2 linked regions of the Homo sapiens genome follow. The protein of the gene in region 1 interacts with the protein of each later gene in a pairwise test. Each region holds a gene or a part of one and is shown on either strand. Other genes may lie near its edges. The genes, in order: BRAT1 and NMI.

The links.
Region 2: the proteins of BRAT1 (region 1) and NMI interact in binary tests that used the Homo sapiens proteins (3 or more experiments, as listed by UniProt).

What each region holds. Positions count from the first base shown.
Region 1 is NC_000007.14:2,545,258-2,554,971, reverse strand, and holds part of BRAT1 (integrator complex assembly factor BRAT1), read left to right. Parts: intron 1-524; 5' UTR 525-540; coding exon 541-667; intron 668-4,006; exon of another isoform or gene 4,007-4,102; intron 4,103-5,847; exon of another isoform or gene 5,848-5,906; intron 5,907-7,493; coding exon 7,494-7,648; intron 7,649-9,714. UniProt on the Homo sapiens protein: Component of a multiprotein complex required for the assembly of the RNA endonuclease module of the integrator complex.
Region 2 is NC_000002.12:151,265,195-151,282,138, reverse strand, and holds the end of NMI (N-myc-interactor), read left to right. Parts: intron 1-95; coding exon 96-191; intron 192-3,148; coding exon 3,149-3,311; intron 3,312-6,274; coding exon 6,275-6,381; intron 6,382-6,468; coding exon 6,469-6,655; intron 6,656-10,406; coding exon 10,407-10,513; intron 10,514-11,263; coding exon 11,264-11,446; 3' UTR 11,447-11,669; downstream 11,670-16,944. UniProt on the Homo sapiens protein: Acts as a signaling pathway regulator involved in innate immune system response.

The sequences.
Region 1 (9,714 bases):
GGGACAGACACACGGACAGGCGCCCCTTCCCCTCCGCACCCCCCTGCTGGCTTCAGGACGTCAAATGCAGCCACCACTTGACGCTGGGAGGGACAGAAACTTTCCAGCCCAGGCTGGCCCTGGGGCATGGGTAGACATCCCCTTGCACACATGGCTGACCCCGGAACTCAAAGATGCCCCTGACTCTGGCCCACCTGCAGCCTGGGCCAGCACCACGCTGTTGCCCCGACTGCACCAAAGACCAAGGGTGACAGACTTTGAGTTCCGGAGGCCTTGTGGTTTCAGCTAGACCCTCATCTGCCCCTTTCAGCCCCGCCACCAGCGCTCAGGGCCCCACCTAGACCAAAGCTTTGCATCCATCCCTGCAGTACAGACCTCTGGTCTGGGGATCATGGTTCTCCTGGTCTGAGATGAAAGTTCTGGGGCCCCTTCCCAGGCCTGAGCAGGCATGGTGGGCTGCTGTGACTAGAGCGAGCTGGGTCTGGAGTGGGCATTGAGGTTTGGCTCTCACATTGCCTTTGCAGGGCCTGCGGCCTCACCATGGACCCAGAATGCGCCCAGCTGCTCCCGGCTCTCTGTGCTGTTCTGGTAGATCCCAGGCAGCCGGTGGCAGATGACACCTGTTTGGAGAAGCTCCTGGACTGGTTTAAAACGGTCACTGAAGGAGGTAAGGAGGTGGTGCTGCTGTTTACTGCCTATCCAGAGACCAGACGCAGAGGCTGGGACAGGGAGCAGGGGCCAGATGGGGACTCCCCTGTCCTGGAGGAAGGGCAGAAACTGCCAATCAGATGTCTTTCCTTCACTTCCTAAGGATTATCTGTGGCAGACTGAGGGCAAGTTAAGATGAAGCCCGAGAGAATGATCTGGAGAGTTAGAGCCTGAAATTCAGCCAGTTGAGCCACGATCAGGGCACCCCAAGGTTCAGTTCTACAGAAGGCGTGAACAAACTTGTTTTATTGTTGTTCTCGTTGTATTTAGTGTGTTTAAGACATCAGATTTGTTTTCTTTCTGATTATGAAAGTAGGGGCCGGATGCAGTGGCTCATACCTGTAATCCCAGCACTTTGGGAGGCTGAGGCGAGCGGATTGCTTAAGTCCAGGAGTTCAAGACCAGCCTGGTCCAACATAGCGAGACGTCATCTCTAAAAAAAAAAAAAACAAAAATTAGCTGTGCCTGGTGGCGCACCTGTAGTCCCAGCTACTCTGGAGGCTGAGATGGGAGGATCCTTTGAGTCCGGGAGGTAGAGGTTGCAGTGAGCTATGATTGTGCCACTGCACCCTGACCTGGGTGATAGAGTGAGACCCTGTCTCAAAAAAAAAAAACAAAGTAATACATGTTCTTTAAAACATGAACAAAAGAGTAAAGAGGAAAATTAAACCATCAACGTTTTAATTTACTCCCAGCCTTTTCATAACACATAAAGCTGTATTTTTCTGGGGAAAAAAAAATGAGGTCATACTGTAAACACAATTTTGGTGTCTTGCTTTCTCTCTTGCTATCATAGTGAGTGTTTTCTCCACATAATATGTTAATGTTATTGACTACATGTTATTTGCTGTAGGAATAGACCATAATTAATTGAATCACTCCACTGTCAGATGTTTATATTTCTCATTTTTCATCATTTTAAGTAGTGTCATAGGTCAGGCGCGGTGACTCATGCTTGTAATCCCATCACTTTGGGAGGCCAAGGCGGGTAGGTCACTTGAAGTCAGGAGTTCGAAACCAGCCTGGCCAACATGGTGAGACCTCGTCTCTACTAAAAATAAAAAAATTAGCCGGGCATGGTGGCATGCGCCGTAATCCCAGCTACTTGGGAGACTGAGGGGGAGGATCGCTTGAACCCAGGAAGCGGAGGTTGCAGTGAGCCCAGATCGTGCCACTGCACTCCAGCGACAGAATGGACTCTGTCTCAAAAAAATAGTGTCAGTCGAGCGCGGTGGCTCAAGCCTGTAATCCCAGCACTTTGGGAGACCGAGGCAGGCAGATCACGAGGTCTGGAGATCAAGACCCTCCTGGCTAACATGGTGAAACCCCGTCTCTACTAAAAATACAAAAAAAAAAAAAATAGCCAGACGTGGTGGTGGGCGCCTGTAGTCCCAGTTACTTGGGAGGCTGGGCAGGAGAATGGCGTGAACACAGGAGGCAGAGCTTGCAGTGAGCCGAGATCACGCCACTGCACTGCAGCCTGGGCGACAGAGCGAGATTCCGTCTCAAAAAAAAAAAAATAGTGTCATAATGGCTTTCCTTTTACATAAATATTCTCGCATGTAAATGTTTATTCTCATGGTTGATAATTGCATTGGGATAGACTGCATGTTGTTAATTTCTGCTATTCTTTACTTCCTTTTTTTGGTTTACCGTGTTCTTTTATTCTTTTTATTTTTAAATTATATTGTATTTTTTTTTTTAAGGATGGGGTCTCACCGTATTGCCCAAGCTGTTTTCGATCTCCTGGGCTCAGGCAGTCACCTGCCTCTGCTTCCCAAAGTGCCTTTTACCCTCTTTGAGCTAAATATCTAGGTCTTCCTTGTTTTCTAATATATATATTTAAGGCCAGGCACGGTGGTTCATGCCTATAATCCCAGCACTTTGGGAGGCTGAGGCAGGCAGATCACTTGAGGTCAGGAGTTGGAGACCAGCCTGGCTAACATGGTGAAACCCCGTCTCTACTAAAAATACAAGAATTAGCCTGACATGGTGGTCCATGCCTGTAATCCCAGCTACTCGGGAGGCTGAAGCAGGAGAATCACTTGAACCTGGGAGGCAGAGGTTGCAGTGAGCCGAGATAACGCCATTGCACTCCAGCCAGGGCAATGGAGTGAGACTCTTGTCTCAAAAAAAAAAAAAAAAAAAAAAAAAAAATATATATATATATATATATATATATTTAAGACTATGCATTTCTCTAAAAGTATGACTTTAGCTACATCTTACACGTTTTACATTGCAGTACTTTGGTTTTAATTTAGTTCTGAGTATTTTATGCTTTTCATTATAATTTTTTTTTCACCCACAAGTTACTTAAAAGAGTATCCTTTAGTTTCAAAATATGGATTTTTCCAGTCTTTTTATTATTGATTTTTAATTTACTTTGTGGAGGTTAGAAAACATAACATATGTTTTGAATCTTTATAGCTGTTGAGACTTTTATTGAGACATAGGACCCAGGCGAGTTTTCTCAATGTTCTAGAGATTTCACTATATGATTTTGATGTTTTGGTATTTGAAGGTCTTCAACTGTGGCCTAGTTTGTAGTAGTCAGTTTTTCTTTTTCTTTTTTTTTTTTTTTGAGCCAGGGTTTTTGCGCGTCACCCAGGATGGAGTGCAATGGCGTGAACACGGCTCACTGCAGCCTTGACCTCCTGGGCAGTCCGCCTGCCTCATTCTCTTGAGTTCCTGGGATCAAGGTGTGTACCAGGCCCAGCTATTTTTTTTTTTCCCATAGAGATGAGGTCTCACCATCTTGTCCAGGCCAGCTTGGAACTCCTGGGCTCAAGCAGTCTTCCCGCCTGGGCTTCCCAAAGTGCTGGGATTACAGGAGCGAGCCACCATGCCTGGCCTGTATTTAAATTTTAAGAAGTATTTTTCAGTAGCTTTATTGAGATATAATTTGCATACCATGCCATTCTCCCATTTAAGGTGTACCAGATCCTTTTACAGTTTGTAAGCATGAGATATATATATATCTATATATAGATATATATATAGATATAGATTTTTTTTTTTTTGAGACCAAGTCTTGCTCTGTTGCCCAGGCTGGGGTGCAATGGCACAATCTTGGCTCACTGCAACCTCCGCCTCCTGGGTTTCAAACGATTCTCCTGCCTCAGCCTCCTGAGTACCTGCGATTAAAGGTGCATGCCACCATGCCCGGCCAATTTTTGTATTTTTAGTAGAGGTGGGATTTCATCATGTTGGCCAGGCTGGTCTCGAACTCCTGACCTCAGGTGATCCCTCCACCTTGGCCTCCCAAAGTGCTGGGGTTACAGTGGAGAGCCACTGCACCCAACCTAAGCATGATAATTGAGTGTTCAGGCGCATGTGTGAGATGTGGCACCATGGAACCCTGGTATGATGTCGGTACGTGACCCGTCTGACATGAGAAATGGACAAAATAAATAAATAAATGGTACCAATTCAACAGTTCTTAGTAAATTTACAGGGCTCTGAAATCATCAGCACAATCTAATTTTGTTCCCCCTAAAGAAACCGAGTCTGGGTTCACAGTGAGTCCCTGTTTCCTCCTCCCTCCCAGCCTCTGTCATTTCTCCTGCATTGTACTTGATGGAAAGAGTGTAGTTTCCACACTCGTTCATTAGTTCAGACCTGCTATGTTCTTGCTAATTTGTTTGCTTGTTTCTGAGAGGTGTGTAAAAAGCTTACACCAAGATCATGGATTCATGATTTTTCTTTGAGATGCATCCTTTTTTTTTTTTTCGCTTTACATATTATTTTTTTCTTTTTCTTTTCTTTCTTTTTTTTTTTTTGTTTTTTTTTTTTTGAGATGGAGTCTTGCTCTATTGCCCAGGCTGGAGTGCAGTGGCATGATCTCGGTTCACTGCAGCCTCGACTTCTTGGGCTCAGATGATTCTCTCACCTCAGCCTCCCTAATAGCTGGGACCACAGGAGCCCGCCACCACGCCCGGCTAAGTTTTTGTATTTTTTGTAGTGACGGGGTTTCACTATGTAGCCCAGGCTGGTCTCAAACTCCTGGGCTCAAGCAGTCTGCCCGCCTTGGCCTCTCAAATCGCTGCAATTACAGGTGTGAGGCACTGTGCCTGGCATTTTTTTTTTCTTTTTTTTTTGGAGACAGGGTCTCACTCTGTCACTCAGGCTAGAGTGCAGTGGTGTGATCACGGCTCACTGTAGCCTCAACTTCCTGGGCTCAAGTGATCCTCCCACCCCAGCCTCCTGGATGGCTGGGACTACAGGGACACACCACCACACCCAGCTAATTTTTTGTATTTTTTTGCGGAGACGGGGTTTCACCACGTTGCCCAGGCTGCTTTACACGTTTTGAAGTGAGGTTAGGTATACATAGATGTAGGAATGTTGTGTCTTTCTGGAATTTATCTCCGTGATCAGTTAACTTACTTCTGCATGAATACTGCTTTTTGCTTTACAGCCCATTTTGTTTGCTATTTCTGTTGCTACATCAGCTTCTTTAAAGTTAGAATTTGCCTACTGTGTCTTTTCTCTCCTGCTCCCAGCCTTTCCTGTCGTTGCATTTTATTGCTTTTAGAAACACCACATTGCTTGTTTTTAGTGTTTAATTTAATCTCAGCAACTCTTTCTTTTAACAGATAAGTTTGATCTCTTTAATTTGTTGAGGCGACTGTTAGATTTGAATTCTTTTGTATTTTTTAATTTCCTGTGCCTTACCTTTGTGCCTTTATCCTCCTTTTCTGCCCTCCATCAGATTGATAAAGCTTTTTTTTTTCTTTTAAATCTTTCCTCTTCTGGTTTTGAAGTTATACATTCTATTTATGTTCTTCTTTTTAGACAAGTTCTTGTGCTGTTGTCCAGGACAGTGGTGTAATCACGGCTCACTGCAGCCTTGACCTCCTGGGCTCAGGTGATCTTCCCATCTCAGCTTCCAGTGTAGCTGGGACTATAGATGCGCGCCACCATGCCCAGCGAATTTTTATAGAGAGGGGATCTTCCTGTGTTGCCCAAGCTGGTCTTAAAACTCCTGGGCTCAGGCAATCTGCCCACCTCGGCCTCTCAAGATGCTGGGACCACAGGCTTATTTGTGTTCTTCAGTGGCTACCCTTATATTTTTAACATGAGAACCGGATTTTTTAAAAAGTCTGAAGTTAATTAGACTTTCCATTCTCTATCCAGGCAACCGAAGGACCTCAGAGCACTTGAACTTCAGGCCATCACAACCTTCTATTATTGTCGTTAGTATTTTAATTCTGTTTTGTTTCAAAACCCTTCAACAATGATTTTTTAGATTTTGAACTCAGTGGCATTGTTTTTTGTTTGTTTGTTTGTTTGTTTTTGAGACAGAGTCTTGCCCTGTCACCAGGCTGGAGTGCAGTGGTGCGATCTCGGCTCACCGCAACCTCCACCTCCCGAGTTCAAGCAGTTCTCCTGCCTCAGCCTCCCAAATAGCTGGGACCACAGGCGCCCGCCACCATGCCTGGCTAATTTTTTATATTTTAGTAGAGACAGGGTTTCATTCACCATGTTTGCCAGGATGGTCTCAATCTCCTGACCTCGTGATCTGCCTGCCTTGGCCTTCAAAAGTGCTGGGATTACAGGCGTGAGCCACCACGCCCCGCCTTTTTTTTTTTTAGAGAGACAGGGTCTCCCTCTGTCGCCCAGGCTGGAGTACAGTGGTGCAGTGATAGCTTGCTGCAGCCTCGAACTCCTGGGCTCAAGCAATCCTCCCGTCTCAGCCTCCTGAGTAGCTGGGACTGCAGATGTGTGCCACCATGCCGGGCTAATTTTTTTTTATTTTTTGTAGAGACAGGGTCTTGCTATGTTGTTCTCCTGCCTTGGCCTCCCAAAGTGCTGGGACTACAGGTATGAGCACCTCACCCAGCCTGCAGTGCTGATTCAGGTGGACATAGTGCTTTTTGGGTCCTGGCCTGGTTCTCCTCCTCTGCATGCTCCTCACTCTCCTTACTGAACCACATTCTTTCCACAGGGGCTTCTCACTGGGAAACTCTCCCAACCTTTGCCTCAAAATGTCTTTTTCCCCCACTGGTGCTTTTGAGCGATAGCATAGCTGGTTATAGAAATACAGGATGCCAGTTCTGGAGAGGAATGTTTGTTCCATTGTACCTGCTTGCATGGAGCACTGTCTAAGGAAAAGTACCCATTTGGAAGGTGAAAATGCTCTTCCACTTTTTTTTTTTTTTTTTTTTGGAATGGAGTCTCGCTCTGTCGCCCAGGGCTGGAGTGTGCCGTGTGCAATGACGTGGTCTTGGCTCACTGCAGCCTCTGCCTCCCAGGTTCAAGCGATTCTCCTGCCTCAGCCTTCCAATTAGCTGGGACTACAGGCATGAGCCACCACACCTGGCTAATTTTTTGTATTTTTAGTAGAGATGGGACTTCGCCATGTTGGCCAGGCTGGTCTCGAACTCCTGAGCTCAAGTGACCACCCGCCTTGGCCTCCTAACGTGTTGGGATTACAGGCGTGAGCCACCACGCCCAGCCTGGTCTTTCACTTTAATTTGCATTTCTTTTTCACTATCAGTGAGACAGAACATTTTTTCAGCATTTTTGGCCATTCACCTGTTGTGAAAGGTGACAGTGTTCCGCCTTTCACCTGTTGTTAAGGTGTTGGCTTTCTAGCCCTTACTGAATTAAAATTATGAGTCATTTGCCGTATTTGTTGCAGATATTTTTTTCCCAGTTGGATCCCTAAATCTAACACCCTGCAAGAAAAGGGTCTGGGAATTGCTAGGAGAAGAGCGGTCATCCAGGGGGACACCTGGTGCCGTACCCCTGGTGACCCCTGGGCTGGGCCATCCCCACAGAGTCCAGTGTCGTGCTGCTGCAGGAGCACCCCTGCCTGGTGGAGCTGCTGTCCCATGTGCTGAAAGTCCAGGACCTGAGTTCTGGGGTCCTCTCCTTCTCACTGCGCCTGGCAGGAACCTTCGCAGCCCAGGAAAACTGCTTCCAGTATCTTCAGGTGAGCCTGGGGCCTCCCACCTGAGTGTCCCGTGGAGAGGTGGGCAGGCTTTTCCTCCCGCAGCCAGGTGGGGCATTTGTAGCCATCACCATCCCAAGTCCCAGCGGCCTGCCCCGACCCTGTGTCCTCACTAGAACTGCATGTTTTTTACCCCCGACTGTAGCCCCCTTTGAAAAATTCGCCCGGAGTGATGCTGGGGCTAAGGAGTTGAGGTTTTTTGGAATAAGATGACTGGCACGGGCTCCCAGCTCTGACCAGCTGTCTGAGCTTGCCCACGGCCGCAAGCCTCCATCTCTTCCTGGGACGGAGACAGGAGTCGCAGCTGCGCCGTGGCCTCCGTCTCTTCCTGGGACGGAGACAGGAGTCGTAGCTGCCCCGTGGCCCCCGTCTCTTCCTGGGACGGAGACAGGAGTCGTAGCTGCGCCGTGGGGTTGTCGTGAGGACCAAATGAGACCGCACATCCTGCACCTCCAGCGACCCAGCCTACAAATGAATGAATAACTAATGAGAATGTGAATGACTAATGAGAATGTCTTTTTTTTAAAAAATTAATTTTATTTATTTTTATTTTATTTTATTATTATTTTTCGAGACAGAGTCTTGCTCTGTCACCCAGGCTGGAGTGCAATGGTTCGAACTCAGCTAACTGCAGTCTCCACCTCCCAGGTTCAAGCGATTCTCCTGCCTCAGCCTCCCGAGTATCTGGGACTACAGGCACCTGCCACCACGCCCAGCTAATTTTTGTAGTTTTAGTAGAGACAGGATTTCACCATTTTGGCCAGGCTGATCACGAACTCCTTGACCTCAAGTGATCCGTCTGCCTCGGCCTCCCAAAATGCTAGGATTACAGGCGTGAGCCACCATACCCGGCCTTTTTTTGTTTTGTTTTTTAGAGACAGAGTCCTGCTCTGTCGTCCAGGCTGGAGTGCAGTGGCAGCTCACTGCAGCCTTGACCTCCTGGGCTCAAGTGACCCTCCCCATTCAGCTTCCCGAGTAGCTGGGTCCACAGGTGCATGAACCACACCTGGCTAACTTTGTTATCTTTGGTAGAGATGGGGTCTCACTATGTTGCCCAGGCTGGTCTCAAACTCCTGGTCTCAAGCGATCATCCTGCCTCGGCCTCCCAAAGTGTTGGGATACAGTCGTGAGCCACTGCTCCCAGCCAAGAATTTCTACATAGCAAGGCATGAGAGCTCGAGAGCCTCCCAGAGCTGTGTCTTCCAGCTTCAAGTGCCTCAGACAGGCACCGCTGAGTCTGTCGGGATGCGTGGTGTGAGCTTCAGGGCCCTTGCCCGTCTACCACGACGGCTTCTCTTGGTGCCTCACAGGCCCTCGCCAGGTTGTGCGAAGGCACATCCAGTACCGTTAGCTTGCCGTTCACGATGCCCCCCAGTTAAGCAGCTGCAGGCTCCCTAGCAGCCCACCCAGGCACCATCTTGCTGCAGGACAGACTTTCCAAGGTGTCCTAGGGTGCTGCCGTACAGTGAATCCGGGGGCCCTTGTCTGTCAGCAGCTGGTATGAAAGTACCCTCCAGGCTGGGCACGGTGGCTCATGCCTATAATCCCAGCACTTTGGGAGGCTGAGGCAGGCGGATCACCTGAGGTCAGGAGTTCGAGACCAGGCTAACCAACATGGTAAAGCCCTGTCTCTACTAAAAATGAAAAAATTAGCTGGGTGTGGTGGTGGGCACCTGTAATGCCAGCTACTCAGGAGGCTGAGACAGGAAAATAGCTTGAGCCCAGGAGGCAGAGGTTGCAGTGAGCCGAGATGTGCCACTGCACTCCAGCCTAGGCAACAGAGTGGGACTGTCTCAAAAAAAAAAAAAAGAAGAAGAAAGTGTCCTCCAGAAGTATCTCCACCAGCCCTGGAAAACTGAAAACCCATCTCTGCTTTGCTCCACATCCCTGGAAACCTACCAGGTCCCCTCACCTCTTTTTTTTTTTTTTTTTTTTTTTTTTTGAGATGGAGTCTCGCTGTGTCACCCAGGCTGGTGTGCAGTGGTGCGATCTTGGCTCACTGCAACCTTCGCCTCCCGGGTTCAAGCAATTCTCCTGCCTCAGCCTTC
Region 2 (16,944 bases), on another chromosome or scaffold:
TGGTCAGGATGAGAGAAATTTATAGTCTTTAGTTCATTCGGAAAAATGAGTTCAGGGGCTATTTACTTTCTTTGGTACCATTTGATATTTTTAAGGGACTAATTGATGAAATTACAAAGAAAAATATTCAACTAAAGAAGGAGATCCAAAAGCTTGAAACGGAGTTACAAGAGGCTACCAAAGAATTCCAGGTACTCTCTTAATTATTTTATATACTACATTTTTGATGGATGCATGGTTTTTGGAAAAAGCATTTTAATTACACAAAATTCATTTTTAAAACCTTATCATCATCCATGGCACCACCATTTGTAATAGTTCAAAATGGAAAACAACCCAATGATTCCTTCATAGTAGAACGAATTAGTGAATTGGGGTATAGTCATATGATAGAAAACTACACAGCAATGAGAATGAACAGATCATAATGACATGCAGCAACACAAATGAGTTTCATAAACACAATGTTAACACAAAAAAGACAGAAGAGGGCATACCATATGCTTCCCTTTAAATTAAGCAAAAGCAGGATGTTTGAAGTTAAAACAGTGGTTATTTTGGAAGCAGGTAAGACCCAGAAGGGAACCCAAGGGGGTTTCTGGGGTGTTGTCATGTCCTGCCTATCATCTGCGTGCCAATCACGTGTGTTAGCTTTGTAAAATTTCATCTTGCTGTACTTAATGATACATGCATTTTTCTATTATTTACGTACACTTTAATAAATTTACAAAAACAAAAAATTAATAAAATTTACCAAAAAAAGATGGTCATTAGCAAATTACTGTTGGATCAAATTCTGGCTTTTCTCACTGAGTTCTTTTATAATTCTTCTCATCCAAGGTGCTTTGGTAATTTAGATGAGTTTCACGGTTCAAAAAATTGGACATATATTAATCCTCACCATTTAAATTCTCTCCTAAATTTTCCTGTATTTTAATTGTACATAATTTTCACCCATTTTTTTTCTTAACAACTCAGATGTTAAAAAATTAAAGCATTGAGGCTGGGCGCGGTGGCTCATGCCTGTAATCCCAGCACTTTGGGAGGCTGAGGCGGGTGGATCATGGGGTCAGGAATTCACGACCAGCCTGGCTAAGATGGTGAAACCCTGTCTCTACTAAAAAAGAAAAATTAGCCAGGCATGGTGGCGGGTGCCTGTATCCCAGCTACTTGGGAGGCTGAGGCAGAGAATTGCTTGAACCTGGGAGGCGGAGGTCGCGATGAGCTGAGATCACACCACTGTGCTCCAGCCTGGGCGACAGAGCGAGGCGCCGCCTAAAAAAAAAAAAATTAAAGCATTGACACTTCTTGTTTCTGAAGTGGGAGATAGGATATTGAATATCAGGAAGTGAGGTTTTCTGTGTTTATGAGATGGGTGACTTTGTGCAGAAGACTCTGTTAAGATTCTGGTTACTTCTCAGACTGGAGCTAGAATCATGCAGTCTTATAACTCAAAGAGCCTTTAGAAACCGGCCAGCCCTAGTCGACCCACTTTGCAGAGGACCAAACCTGTGATCAGAGAGCTTAAGTAAATTTGCTGTCTGTCGCAGTGTGGTCAGAAATAGAATCAAGCTTTCTCACTCTAATTTCAGAAAGCCCTTGCTCCTCAGCATATACTGGGTATTTCTGCATTATTGGGTAACACTCTGCCTTTACTCAGACATTGTAGACTGTTTTGATGTCAGCCTTACCGTAATCAGAAGTTCCACTGGAGTTATGCATAAAGGCAAAGAATAAATGTAAGATTAAATTGAATGACTCACTGAATATTTCTAATCTCTGTGTTATTTTCAGCATGTAAAATAACCATGGGCAATAGAAATGCAAGCATCTATCTCATTTGTGCATTTATGTGTAGTTATATGAATCTGTTAATCCCAATAATTCTAAGCAGCTAAGTATAACCACCTACCTTTATCTTTCAGGTTACAATTTTTTTTTTTGAAACAGAGTTTTGTTCTTGTTGCCCAGGCTGGAATGCAATGGTGCGATCTCGGTTCACTACAACATCCGCCTCCCTGGTTCAAGCGATTCTCCTGCCTCAGCCTCCTGAATAGCCAGGATTACAGGCGTTTGCCACCACGCCCAGCTAATTTTTGTATTTTTAGTAGAGATGGGTTTTACCATGTTGGCCAGGCTGGTCTCAAACTCCTGACCTCAGGTGATCTGCCTGCTTTGGCCTCCCAAAGTGCTGGGATTACGAGTGTGAGCCACCTGTGTAGCCTCAGCTTACAATTTCTGTTGATACTGTCCCTTCTCATTTTTTATAAACCTAAGTTGTGGTAATGGTTAAAAAGTTGATGGGCAGGTGTTGGGGAAGGTGGAATTTTTAAATTTGATAAATTTAACATCATCTAATTCTGGGCCAGGTGTGGTGGCTCACGCCTGTAATCCCAGCGCTTTGGGAGACCAAGGCAGGCAGATCATGAGGTCAAGAGACCATCCTGGCCAACGTGGTGAAACCCTGTCTTTGCTAAAAATACAAAATACAGAAATTAGCTCGGTGTGGTAGCGCATGCCTGTAGTTCCAGCTACGCGGGAGACTGAGGCAGGAGAATTGTTTGAACCCGGGAGGTGGAGGTTGCAGTGAGCCGAGATCACACCACTGTACTCCAGCCTGGCAACAGAGTGAGACTCTGTCTCAAAATAAATAAATAAATAAATAAAATTATCTAATTCTAGAGTCTTTCTTTTTGGATGAAATTATCTGGATTTGAAATACCATATTATACCCAACACTATATTTCATACTTTGCAGCAAAATTAAACATACTATCTAATGATTTCCTTTTGAGATAGTCTATTATTGGCACTTGTTTAAAAAGTCCTTATTCACATGAATGATGTAGGCTTTAGAACTGAACACCATACAATATTGACAGTTTAAACATTGATTAGAAAAAAGTGAGAGGATTATATATTTTTAATTTCATCTGTGAAATGATATTAAAAGATCAGCATTTGATTACTGAGTACTTACATGGGAAAAAGCAATTACTAAAAATGTTAAATAAGACCATACTCAATATTCTACAAGGTTCTAAAATTAGTGGGGAATGAATTATTGGATGACCAAATTACATTATCATTGGAAGGACTTAAGTTATTTCTCGTCTTGATTTTAATCAAACATTTTCATTTGGATTAGATTAAAGAGGATATTCCTGAAACAAAGATGAAATTCTTATCAGTTGAAACTCCTGAGAATGACAGCCAGTTGTCAAATATCTCCTGTTCGTTTCAAGTGAGCTCGAAAGTTCCTTATGAGATACAAAAAGGACAAGCACTTATCACCTTTGAAAAAGAAGAAGGTATGACTAATGTTAAAAAATATGACCATGTTATTTGGAAAGCACTTTCATAGACATTTAGCTATTACTTCGCTAATATTACTTCACTTATATTATTTCTTATCCTCATAGTGACGTTCTGAGGCAGGTATGATTATTCCCATTTTACAGATGAGAAAACTGACTCTGAGACAAGTGCCTTGAATATGATCTTGTATTCAGAAAGCCATGACTGTGGGACTTAATCCAGGTGCTATGATGATGTCCAATACCAGCCTCTTTCTACTCCACATGCTACCTCCAAATAATGATAGTAATATTTCAAGGTAGTAGAGCTGTACAGTTCTCAGAGACATTATCACATTTTATACTCACACAATTCCATAAATATAGGAGGATAGGATAGTTATTATTGTGTACTTTAAATATAGACATGCCAGAGCCAAGAAAACAGATTCTGAGGATGTTTAAGTGATTTACCTAAGGGAACATAGCCAACGAATGAGAAGAGCCTGGGAGCTAGAGATTTGGAATGAAACCTAATGTTTGCTAAGTCTGCCATGGTGAGGGCCCCTGTTCAGAGCTGGGGGTTCCTGAGTGGGGAGGATCTGGCTTTGAGTGCCAGCCTTGTCCCTTCCTAGAAGCATGATTTGGGATAGGTTCTTTATAAACCTCAGGGTTTTATACAGGTGCTTCATGGTAGTACCTACTTCATGAGGCTGCTTTGAGTATTAAATGAGAAATGTTGATAAAATACTTAGCACAATGTTGGACACTTAATACAAACTTAATGGATGTTAGTTTTTGCTACATGTTAGAAATTTTTCAGATAAGGATACAGAAGCTTAAAGAAGATAATTAACTTGCTTAAAGTCTATACGGTTAGTTGCAGAGCTTAGAGCCAAACCCTGAGAGTCCATGTACTTCCACTGGGCCAATATTTCTCTCGGTAGGCCACCAGCCCAGGCCTTTGTTCTTTTATTTAAGTTATGTGGTGAGGGACCAGATGGTGTTCCCAGCCCTTCCAGTGCTCATATTCTGACAGTCTATAACCCATGTTTCCTCAAAACTGGTGCACCACTGTAGCCTGAAAATAAATGTTGAAAGGCATTCCAGCAGGACAGTATCTGTGCGTAGAAGACATGCATCGCCAGTGTGTTTTCCTTCACCCTGGAGCTACTGCTACAGGTAGAAGAGGAGTCCAGGACTCATACTGGCGACTGGTAATCGGGATATAACTAAAAGATAGATATAAATGAGGATTTGGGAGGCAGGATTTCTGCACAGCAATTTCCTGGGAATGTTGGAAATGGAATTCTCTAAAAGCACCTACATCATTGCTTCTACGCTTGACGTGGCTCTGAGCTCCCAATCTCCTGGGACAGCAGTAGGTTTGAAACACAATTAAGTAGGAGTTGGCTCTTGATTGTCAGAGTCACAACAATTGAGACACAAGCGGTCCCTCTCAGCTGTATCAGATCACCAGATGTTGGGGGTTTGTGGAAGAGTGGGAGGGAAAGAGGATCATCTGAGTATTACTCATTGATATTTTCTGTTATTGTCTGTTGTCATTAGCAAAAAAACACAAAAACACAAAAAAACAAAAAACCATCATCCAAGTTATAGAGTCATATTTTGGTACAGTGAGTTGAATTCCCACATGGCCAAGGCCCTGCCTTCTGGCCCTTTTTTCTCTTCCTCCAGCTGTGGTGTGGTGCCATCTGGTCTGGTTGTCATAAACACATGTGAAGTTTTATAAGACAGAGAGTGAATGTCACTTATTTTCATGATACATTGGAATAGCAGCCCCAAATATCAACAACTGCAGTATTATAAACTCATGCCACACAATTAAAAATAAATGCCCACTCACATTTTTAATTGACATAGAGTTGCCTTTTGGAGTGCTAGTGATTTTTAGCATTTTACTAAACCTCTCCCATTTGCACAGGTAAATTAGACTTGACAGCTTTGTGATCAATATAGCAGGACTATCAACTTTTTAAAGAATGATTTCAAGAGCATTTTTGCAAAAGTGGAATTCGTCATTAAGTATGACCAAAAAAAAGACTCACTCTTTGATGTTCCAGCCTATGTAGTCTTTAACATGTAATCCTTGAGAAGACAGAGCAAATGAATATATATTGCTCTAGTGCTTGTAACATATTAAGGAGTAACAAATGATAAGGTTAAGTAAAATCAAGACTAATTGTACAAATGACACTTAGCCATGAAAGTTTTCCCAGCTTACTGAACATGGGACACTTTCTGGCTGTGCATTAATGTACTAGGGGAATCCTCTGGTAATTGTTAATAGTGGAAGGAAGGGTATGTGGCTGAGCTGAAGTAATATATGAATTCTGGAAGATTGTTAGGCTTATCTCTTAAGAGATAAGAGAAAAGATTCATCTTATGAGAAGAATCTAGAACTTGAGAACTTCTACATTGTGATTTTGCTGATATACTTTGACATTAATATATTCTACTTTGGGACCAAGAGCAGTGGCTCATCCTGATAATACCAGAACTTTGTCTGGGAGTCCGATGCAGGAGGATTGCTTGAGTCCAGGAGTTCCAGAGCAGCCTGGGTAACAAAGTGAGAGCTCGTCTCTACAAAAAGTTAAAAAAATTAGCTAGGCGTGGTGGCATGCACCTGTAATCATAGCTATTCTGGAAGCTGAGGTGGGAGGATCTCTTGAGCCCAGGAGTTTGAGGTTACAGTGAGCTATGATCACATCACTGCATTCCAGCTTCAGTGACAGAATGAGATCTGGTCCTCCTTCCCCCTGACCCCCCAAATTATATATTCTACTTTGGTAGCAAGACCATTATCACTTGGAATCACCGCCCGCCAAATTTTTAAAATTAGACCCTTTAATATTAAAGAAAATTAAAAATATTCAGGATAATTTGTTCTTAAACCAAAAGCATAACAATTCTTAAAATATTGGAAATTAATACTTCCTTCCTGAATTATTTTTCAGTTGCTCAAAATGTGGTAAGCATGAGTAAACATCATGTACAGATAAAAGATGTAAATCTGGAGGTTACGGCCAAGCCAGTTCCATTAAATTCAGGAGTCAGATTCCAGGTAACAGGATGATTAAAATTTTTTGGATTTCTGTTCATCACAAGCACTTCTCTCATCCATATTTCTGAACATCAAATCATTTTCCAGGTTTATGTAGAAGTTTCTAAAATGAAAATCAATGTTACTGAAATTCCTGACACATTGCGTGAAGATCAAATGAGAGACAAACTAGAGCTGAGCTTTTCAAAGTCCCGAAATGGAGGCGGAGAGGTGGACCGCGTGGACTATGACAGACAGTCCGGGAGTGCAGTCATCACGTTTGTGGAGATTGGAGGTACTCAAGGGTGTAGAAGGTTAACAGACACTCTGCCATTTCAGTCATGTTCTGTTGTTTCTGAAAGTATTCCTATTCTACTTCTTTTATTTGGAATGTATTAGCATGATAATTGGGGATTTTAAAAAACCTTATAAAATAGTAGAGTGTAGGAAATTATTTCCAGGGACAGTACTAGGAAAGATAATATTGCTACAAATAGGCAGGGTGCAGTGGCTCACCCCTGTAATCCCAGCACTTTGGGAGGCGGAGGCAGGCGGATCACTTGAGGTCAGGAGTTCAAGACCAGCCTGTCCAACATGGCGAAACCCCATCTCTACTAAAAATACAAAAATTAGCCAGGCATGGTGGCAAGTGCCTGTAATCCCAGCTACTTGGGAGGCTGAGGCAGGGAGAATCACTTGAACCCAGGAGGTGGAGGTTGCAGTGAGCTGAGATCACCAGGCATAGTGGTGCGTGCCTGTGGTCCCAGCTACTCAGGAGGCTGAGGTGGGAGGATTACTTGAGGCCAGGAGGTTGAGGCTGCAGTGACCTGTGATTGCACCACTGCACTACAGCCTGGGAGACAGAGTGAGACCCTGTCTCAAAAAACAAAATTAAAAAAAAAAATTGATGGATTAGATTTTTTCATGACAAAGTAATACATGCTTTTTTAAGGAAGGTGAAATAATACAGAAGAGCAAACATTTAGTAAAAATGAGACATTTCGGCCGGGCCCGGTGGCTCATGCCTGTAATCCCAGCACTTTGGGAGGCCGAGGCAGGCAGATCATGAGGTGAGGAGTTCGAGACCAGCCTGACTAACATGGTGAAACCCCGTCTCTACTAAAAATACAAAAAAATTAGCCAGGTGTGGTGGCGCATGCCTGTAATCCCAGCTACTCGGGGGGCTCAGGCAGGAGAATAGCTTGAACCCAGGAGGTGGAGGTTGCAGTGAGCCGAGACTACGCCACTGCACTCCAGCTTGGGCGACAGAGTGAGACTCCGTCTCAAAAAAAAACAAAAAGAGACATTTCCTCAAACTTCCCTTTCTCCTACTATTTAGTTAGTTATGGTTATTTGGGTGTCTTTCCAGGCTTTTCTCTGGGCACATTAAAACATGTCAATATCCTTTTTTTTTTTTTTTTTTTTTTTTTTTTTGTGAGACAGAGTCTTGCTCTGTCGCCCGGGCTGGAGTGCAGTGGCACTATCTCAGCTCACTGCAACCTCCGCTTCCCGGGTTCAAGCAATTCTCCCACCTCAGCCTCCCGAGTAGCTGGAATTACAAGTGCATGCCACCATGCCTGACTAATTTTTGTATTTTTGGTAGAGACGGGGTTTCACCATGTTGGTCAGGTTGGTCTCGAACTCCTGACTTCAAGTGATACGCCCGCCTTGGCTTCCCAAAGTGCTGGGATTACAAGCATGAGCCGCCGCTCCTGGCCCAATATGCATTTTTGACCTGAGCTTTTGGATGATGTTTAGGACATCCTGGTGGGATGTGTCAGGGAGAGCTATAAAAGGAAGGGGTCTTGAGGGCTACAGTAATATGTTGTCTTGGAAATGAACAATAACTTGGTGGAAACTTCCATAGTCAAGCATCCAGATTTTAATTTGCCAAATTCATATATTCATTTAGCCTGTTTGGTGTTAGTTTGTCTATATCTTGGATTTTAAAAAATCTGGCCAGGCGCAGTGGCTCATGCCTATAATCCCAGCACTTTGGGAGGCGGAGGCGGGTGGATCACTTGAGGCCAGGAGTTCAAGACCAGCCTGGCCAACATCGCGAGACCCCTTCTCCACCAAAAATACAAAAATTAGCGGATGTGCTGGCTCACGCCTATAGTCCCAACTACTTGGGAGGCTGAGGCAGGAGAATTGCTTGAACCTGGGGGGTGGAGGTTGCAGGGAGCTGAGATTGCATCACTGCACTCCAGCCTGGGTGACAGAGTGAGACTCGGTCTCAAAAAAACCGAAATAAAATAAATAAAATAAAATAAACTAGAATGCAATTTATAACTCTACTGTGAGAGATAATACTAGCTTTGGAACCTGTGTCCTTGGGCCATCTGGGGATGTTCTCCTAGAGGTTACATCTAGCCAGATGGGAAAAATACTTCTGCAGGTTATAGGTTATCCAGCAGGTAACTACTGAAGGATGTGAAGGTATTCTGGAGATAAATATGCCAGATACTTCATAAACTGTGTCTTACTGACTCATCACAATAATCTACAGGGTAGGTACTGTAATTATGCTTATTTTACAGAAAAAGAAACTGAGGCTTTAAGAAGTCAAGCAACATATCCAAGGCCACATAGCTCATAAGTAGCAGAGCTAGGACTGAAGCTGGTCTATTTGACTCAGGACCTGTACTCTTTTTTTTTTTTTTAACTGTGATAAAATATATATAACATAAAATTTACCATTTTAACAATTTTTAAATGTACAATTCAAGGGTACTAAGTACATTCACAATGTTGTACAACCATCACCACTATCCATCTCTAGAACTTTTTAATCACCCCAAACTGAAACTCTGTACCCATTTAACAATAATTCTCCATTACCTCTTCTTCCAGCCCCTGGTAACCATCATTCTACTTTCTGTCTCTATGAATTTGCCTATTCTAGGTACCTCATTCAAGTGGAATTATACAATATTTGTCCTTTTCCTGTCTGTCTTATTTTGGTTAGCATAATGTTATCAGGGTCCATCCATGTTGTGGTATGTATCAGAATTTCATCCTTTTTAAAGGCTGAATAATATTCTCTGTGTGTGTGTGTATTTTATATATCCATTTTGTTGATCTGTTCATCTGTTGGTGGATGCTTGGGTTGCTTCCACCTTTTGCCTATTGTGAAAAATACTGCTCTGAGCATTAACGAGCAAGTATCTGTCCGAGTCCCTGCTTTCAGTTGTTTCGGGTATATACCCAGAAGTTGAATTGCTGGATCATATCATGTTCTATTTTAATATTTTGGGGAACTGTCATACTGTTTTCTACAGTGGCTGTACCATTTTACATTTCTATCAGCATTGCCTCAGGGTTTCAATTTCTCCATATTCTCGCCAATGAGGGCCTACACTCTTAATCATTGTACCATATTGCTGATCCAAGGTAGATGAGTGAGAAGAGTCATAAAAAACATGGTTGTATATTCCCAAGAACTGTTTTTGTTAAATGTTACAGTCTTGACACACATCCTTTCACCACTCTAGGAGAAAAAAATACTGCTAAAAAATAGACTATTCTTTGTGTTGTAGAAAACTGATGAATTTTTATTTCCTTTCAGTTTTTCTAGATGACATTCAATCCCCTCCCTGCTTTGGTTAACATCATTACTTCAGTTTATTGAATATATTGAAAAAAATGTATATAGTATTCTAATCATAGTTTTCACTTACAGCTTTTGAGAAACTGGGAAACAGTCCAGTCTTGTTAGATGAGTGGGTTACTTTCTGCAAAAGACTATGGTATTTTTTATAGCTCAAAGTAGATCTGTCTGAGGACATTGCAACCCTTTGTGCATTGATTGACTGCAGTGAATAATTCAAGATGGAATGAAGGCTTTAAACCTCATTATTGTTTGGTCTTGTAGTTTTCAAAATTATGTACTGTGAAGTCTTCAAAGTGGGCTTTAGAATTTCTTAAAAATTAATCTTTTAACTCAATATTTACTGTAATAGTGTTCTCTTTGAAGGAAGTTTTAACTTTGGTTAAAAATGCTTATGATATAAAAAAGACAAGTATTGTTTTTGTTTTGCTTTTAGTGGCTGACAAGATTTTGAAAAAGAAAGAATACCCTCTTTATATAAATCAAACCTGCCATAGAGTTACTGTTTCTCCATACACAGAAATACACTTGAAAAAGTATCAGGTAAAGTCATCTCTGTTCTCTCATTTTCAGAACTCACTGCCCAAACCCACCCCACAAAAAATAAAGTTGTTGTGAGTCTGTTACTTATGCATCTTATCAATGAGGGATAGCAAAATGGTTTCTTTACTTCATTTTTGCTTGGTGCAAAATGAGTTTGTCTTTTGAAGGAGCATTTTAATGCAAAACTGTACTTTATTATACAATTTTTAAAACTGAAATTACTCAGATAATGGCACAATTTTTATTTTTGTACATGGAGACATAGTTGCATTTCTCTCATATGTCTACTGTCAGTGAGCATGAGAAAGAATTCCTGCCTACTTTCTCTGAACTCATTATCTTTACCCCAGACCTGCTCCCTTTTCCTCTTCCTTCTCAGGTATCCAATGGTACCACCATCTACCTACTCCACCAACTTAAAAGCTAGAACTCATACTTAACTCTTCAGTTTGCTTCACCTCCAACATTCATTTGGTCACTAAATCTTGCCAGCTCCACTTCTGACTACCTCTTTACCTGGTCTTTCTGTTCCCAGAGCATCCCTCCTTTCCTCTGTGTTCCATAATGCCACCAGAGTTCTCTTTCTAAAACTCAGATCTGACTTGGATATTCTCTTGCTTGGAAAATCTTCCTAAGATTTCTTGTCTCTTCTAAGATAAAATAAAAAATATTAAGCAGAGATTATGAATGTAAAGTTTTGTAATTCAAAGCTCTTAGAAATCTTTCTATTTATCATTTTTTCCTTCTTAGATATTTTCAGGAACATCTAAGAGGACAGTGCTTCTGACAGGAATGGAAGGCATTCAAATGGATGAAGAAATTGTGGAGGATTTAATTAACATTCACTTTCAACGGGCAAAGAATGGAGGTGGAGAAGTAGATGTGGTCAAGTGTTCTCTAGGTCAACCTCACATAGCATACTTTGAAGAATAGACTTAACAGAATCATGAAAACTATAGCTTTTTAACCCGGATTACTGTAAATGTTTGACAAAAATGAATATGCTTTTCCTTAAAAAATGAAAACTTTAATTTTTACCATCCATTTATGTTTAGATACAAAACTTATTTCCATGTTTCTGAATCTTCTTTGTTTCAAATGGTGCTGCATGTTTTCAACTACAATAAGTGCACTGTAATAAAAAGTTTTGTTTATAGATTATGTGTATTGGTGCCATGTCTGCTGAAATCAACCTTAAGTGATTCAGATGTCCCCTGCCAGTGCTGGCTCATCCTGTTATGGTCTTGTGGGCCAATTCAGTTGTGGCCCCATGCCCACCAATATGCAGACTTGACTCTTAACATTTTCCAAAACAAAGGCAGTTACATTCAGCAGTTGGTGATTCCTGTAAACTCAACTGAAGATTCGAAGGACTTCAAGAGCAACCATTTACCACTGTGCATAGCATTTCACTCCACAACTCTAAAGGTTCTCAGAGCTGAGTGTGATCTTTTTCTTGAATTTCTGTTCACCCAAGTGCCAAGTGTCCCTTGATTCCTTCCAAGCCATCCCCTCTCCAAATAGAGCTCGTAAAGGACTAGCTTTTTCTTTCTTTTGCACTTACAATGGAAACAATTGGTATAAGAGTTTGAAAACCTTGGCATGGAGAGAGAGGTAAATACAAAGTTAGTGACTCATCACTTATCATGCTCGATGCTGGGGAATGACTGGAGGTAAAAACACAGTACCTGCCCTCCAAGGGTTTAAGTTTAGTTGGAAAGAGACCCAGTTTACTAGCATCTCACTGTTTTTAACTTGCAGAAACTTTAATGATAAAATTAAAGATTCCTATTCAGAGAAGGTAAAAGTCTTTTTGGTAAAGAACCTTTAGGCCGGTTGCGGTGGCTCACGCCACCAGCACTTTGGGAGGCTGAGGTGGGCGGATCACTTGAGGTCAGGAGTTCGAAACCAGCCTGGCCAACATGGTGAAACCCTATCTCTACTAAAAATACAAAAATTAGCCGGGCATGGTGGTGGGCGCCTGTAATCCCAGCTACTTGGGAGGCTGAGGCAGAATTGCTTGAACCTGGGAGGCGGAGGTTGCAGTGAGCTGAGATCGTGCCATTGCACTCCAGCCTGGGTGTTGCAGTGAGACTCTGTCTCAAAAAAAAAAAAAAAAAAAGAAAAATAGAAAAAAAACCTTTGGACAACTTCTATTCTGACATGGTAGGTTTCATGAAGAACTGGCAGCAGAATTAAATTCATATTAAAATGCTGGCAGAATGAAAGGCTTTTAGAAAAGGTTCTAAACCTATTGAATGCTGCCTGGCATCTAAAACAAACAAAAGGAAAAGCTCGAGTTTTGCTTCTGATATTTTATTTTTAGTTTTTAAAGTTACATTACTCTCAGGAGTTCTCATTTTCACCTTTCTTTAAAGAATGAGAGATGGTGCCTAAAAACTACAGTTTATGATAAATCTTCATATTTACCATTTAAACAAATCTCTCGTGTCTATTATTCTTTTTAAAATAGAATGACTATTTAAAGCTCTCAAAAATATTAAGAAGAAAACTTTAAAGTAGCTTTTTAATTTCCATTTTGCCAGTCTCACTGGCACAGAAGGTATTGTTGATAGTCTGTGGCAGATTGCCTATCAGGAAGAATTTTATGTTAATATTTATTTAGGACAAAGTTGAAATAGTCACTTTTGTATTTTGGGGGGTCCTCTTCAGGCAGTAAAATTGATAATTCAATTCTAAATTTTCCTATGTGTTTTTTTATAAATATTTCTAGCTTAGAAAATTATACTTTTCTTTTGGATTCCTTTCACCCTCACCCAAGAGCAGTCTGGCTGGATGTCAGAAAACAAGTATTGGCTCTCCTGCTTATTCCTAGAGTTTTAGGGATCTTACAGAAGGACAGCTGTCTTTGAAAACTTATCAAAAGTACATATTGACTGTTTAATATATTGAATATTAAGAAAGGGGCCTTCATATGTATGTCCAAGATGAGCTAACTCCAGACATTGCCAATATGATAAGTCATATAGATACATATGTGGAATTACAAGTTCCTCTTGCTGTTTGTTGATTTATCAGGCAGCACAGGCTAGGTAATGCCACAGTAACAAACAACCTGCCAAACCTCATGGGCCTAAACAATTCTTACCCATGCTGATTATCCAGCACAGGTTGGCAGGGGGACTCTGTTTATCCTCATCACTTAGAGACTCCATTCTTGAGACAAGAATCATGGAGGGTGGAGGAGGGGGAGGAAATGTGAAATCTGGAAAGTCTTGTATCAGCAATTAAATGCTGTGACCCAGAAGTGATTCTTGTCATTTCTTCTCACATCTCATTGGTCAGAAATAGTCACATGGCCCTATTCAAATAGAAGGGACTTGGGCTGGGCATGGTGGCTCATCCATGTAATCCCAGCACTTTGGGAGGCCAAAATAGGAGGATCACTTGAGGCCAGGAGTTTGAGACCAGCCTGGCCAACACAGTGAGACCCCATCTCTATTTAAAATCTAAATACATGTATATATATAAATGCTTATATATCTCTATTTTAAATCCAAATATATATATGGGGACTAGGAAATTCTGTCTTATCAAAAGTTAGGAGAAACAGATATCGCTGAGCCAGAATAATAACCAGCATAGCCTACCTGTCTTACCACCAATATTTAGTTCATTTGTCTTCTCACACAAAATACACTCGTAGTCATCTCATCCTTAAGGGAGAAAAACAAGAAATTCTATCCAATCATGATATTAAACTCAAAGTGCATGAATTCAAAGTGCTCTACATCAGGTCTGAATGTTACTCCTCTTTATGCAGAGACCCTCACACATCCAATATAGAGTAGCGGAACTGGAATAAGATGAGTGCAATAAACTCTTACACTTGGAAAGGGAAAGAATGGGAGACACATAGCCGTCACTGGGCCAAAGCAATTCTGAAATCCCATTCAGTAGATGTGTGCTCCATACTCCCAGGGTGTGGAATTTGGATTAGGCCCTGATTCCATTCTCTAAGAATTCTCTTGCTCATTGTCCTTATGGCTCTTGAACATTCTTCTTCTTCTTTTTTTTTTTGACACGGATTCTCACTCTATCGCCCACACTGGAGTGCAGTGGTGCGATCTCAGCTCACTGCAACCTCCGCCTCCCAGTTGAACACTCTTCTTTTTCCATTATTCTTCTTGGCCATATCTAGAATGGGCATTTGAAATCTCTTGGAATCTGAAAAGCTTCCCTAGTGCACTTCCTATGGTCAATGTTTGTGACCAAAGTTATAAAGTTTTGAACAGTCATGGTCTCTTTAGTCTGGAGTGGTGGTTATTTAGCTGGTAAAATGGAAAAACTCAATAGGCATCTTGTCTATTTTATTCTGGTAAGCTTACACATCCACAGTTCTTTTCTAGACTTACTTTTTAGAGTTGCTACTGTTCTCTGCTTTCTTAGCCTCATGCTTCTTTCACTCTCCTCATTTAATTATAGATACTTTGGGTCTATCAGGCCACACTTTTGCTTTCATTTCCTTGAGCTATTTTGTCCAGTTGAAAGGGTTTATTGTATTCCACAACCTTAATTGGTGTTTTCGCTCTGAGGGATCCTAATCTATTTAGAGATTTACACCTTGATTTGATCCCCGCGATAAACCGGAGTTCTAATCAATCTTTGTTACTCAACAGGCTTCTTGGTTTTATTGTTTATTATTTGGGAATGAGAAATGTTTCTTCCAGCCCCATAAGTTGGAAGTTCATATTTCTGGACTTTCTCTATTCCCTTTCATTCCTGCTTTCAAACTGGCCAGTTCTTTTCTAAAGTCATTTCTTTCTTATATTATTTGTTAAATGCACTCAATGATAACAGAAAAATGCTAATAACTTTCTGCTTCCCATACTTAAAAAATAACAACCCCAAAACCACAAGCTAATTAGGTACATTATTTGCTTTCCAAGCTATCACATGACAGTTTTACAAAGTACTTTTATACTGCATAATGTGGGTCACCATCCTTCTAATCTCTGATAACTATTTTCTTCTTATCTGCCACTTGGCCTCTAAGCCAAAGTCATGTATTTCAAGTAGTGTTTGGATTGTGTGGTTTTTTTTTTGGCCATAGCAGTACTCCATTTCAGAATACCAATTTCTGTATCAATCAGAATAGGCTATGTGATGCTGATGTGAAAAATTTTTAAATTTAAAATTTTTAAATTTTAAATCTTTTTAAATTTCAGAGACTTAAAGCAACACACATTTATTCCTTCCTCAAGCTACATGGCCATTGATGGTTCAACAAAAAGAGCTCTGCTCATGGTAAACACTTAGGGACCCAAACTCATGGCAGCCACCATCTTTACTATTGCTAGATGTTATGCCAGAGGAAGAAAAGAGCTTTGAAGGGTCTTTAACTGGTAATTAAATTTTTGGCCCAGAAATGATACTTGTCACTTCCACTCACAACTCAGAACTAAGCATATGGACCTACCCAACCATAAAGGAGCCTGGATGTTCATTCTTACCATATGGTTGGAAGGCAGAAAGCCAAAACTGTATGGGAAATAGCATTAATGATACCTGCTTGGTATTAAAAAAGAAAAGATGCTCAATCTTGAAAAATACACATAGTATTATGGAGATAATAAAAATCACCAAAAGTACACATCCAGAGATAATGGTAAATATTTTTGTGTTCTCTTTTCTATTCTTTTTTTCCTTCTAACCACATCACATTTAATGCTGTAAATATACCCATATACCCTATGCTATTTGTCACTTCCTTATTGTTGGGAATAAGGTTGCTTCTAATTTCTTCACACTTATAAATATTCTGATGTACGTAAGTCCTTATATGTCTTGGTACATAAGACATTTTCTGCAGTTCTGACCTTACTTCAAGGTGATAATTGCTAGGTTGAAAGGCAGAAGGACGAAAAACTCTTTTAAGGATCTTGTTAAGTGAGGCCAGAATTGCTTACTAGAAAGGTAGGCATTGGTTTGTACTTTCATTAACAGTGTAACCAAGCACTATCTCATTGCTCCATTTCAGCACTGAATACTACTTATCTAAACATGTTTTCTTTATTCTATTTTTGGAAATTTTCATAACACATCCCAGGGTTTTATGAAAATAAGTAATTACCAAGATACGGGTGAAACATCCTGTAATGGGTTTTGCTTTAGTTTTTTGGTGTCACAAATGAAAAACGTTCAGGAAAATGTTGATTTTATTTCTTTCTTTCTTTAGAGATGGAGTCTCGCTCTGTCACGCAGGCTGGAGTGCAGTGGCACAGTCTCAACTCACTGCAACCTCCATCTCCCGGGTTCAAGCGATTCTTCTGCCTCAGCCTCCTGAGTAGCTGGGACTACAGGGGCAAGCCACCACGCCCGGCTGATTTTTTTGTATTTTTAGTAGAGACGGGGTTTCACCTTGTTACCCAGGATGGTCTCCATCTCCTGACCTCGTGATCCGCCTGCCT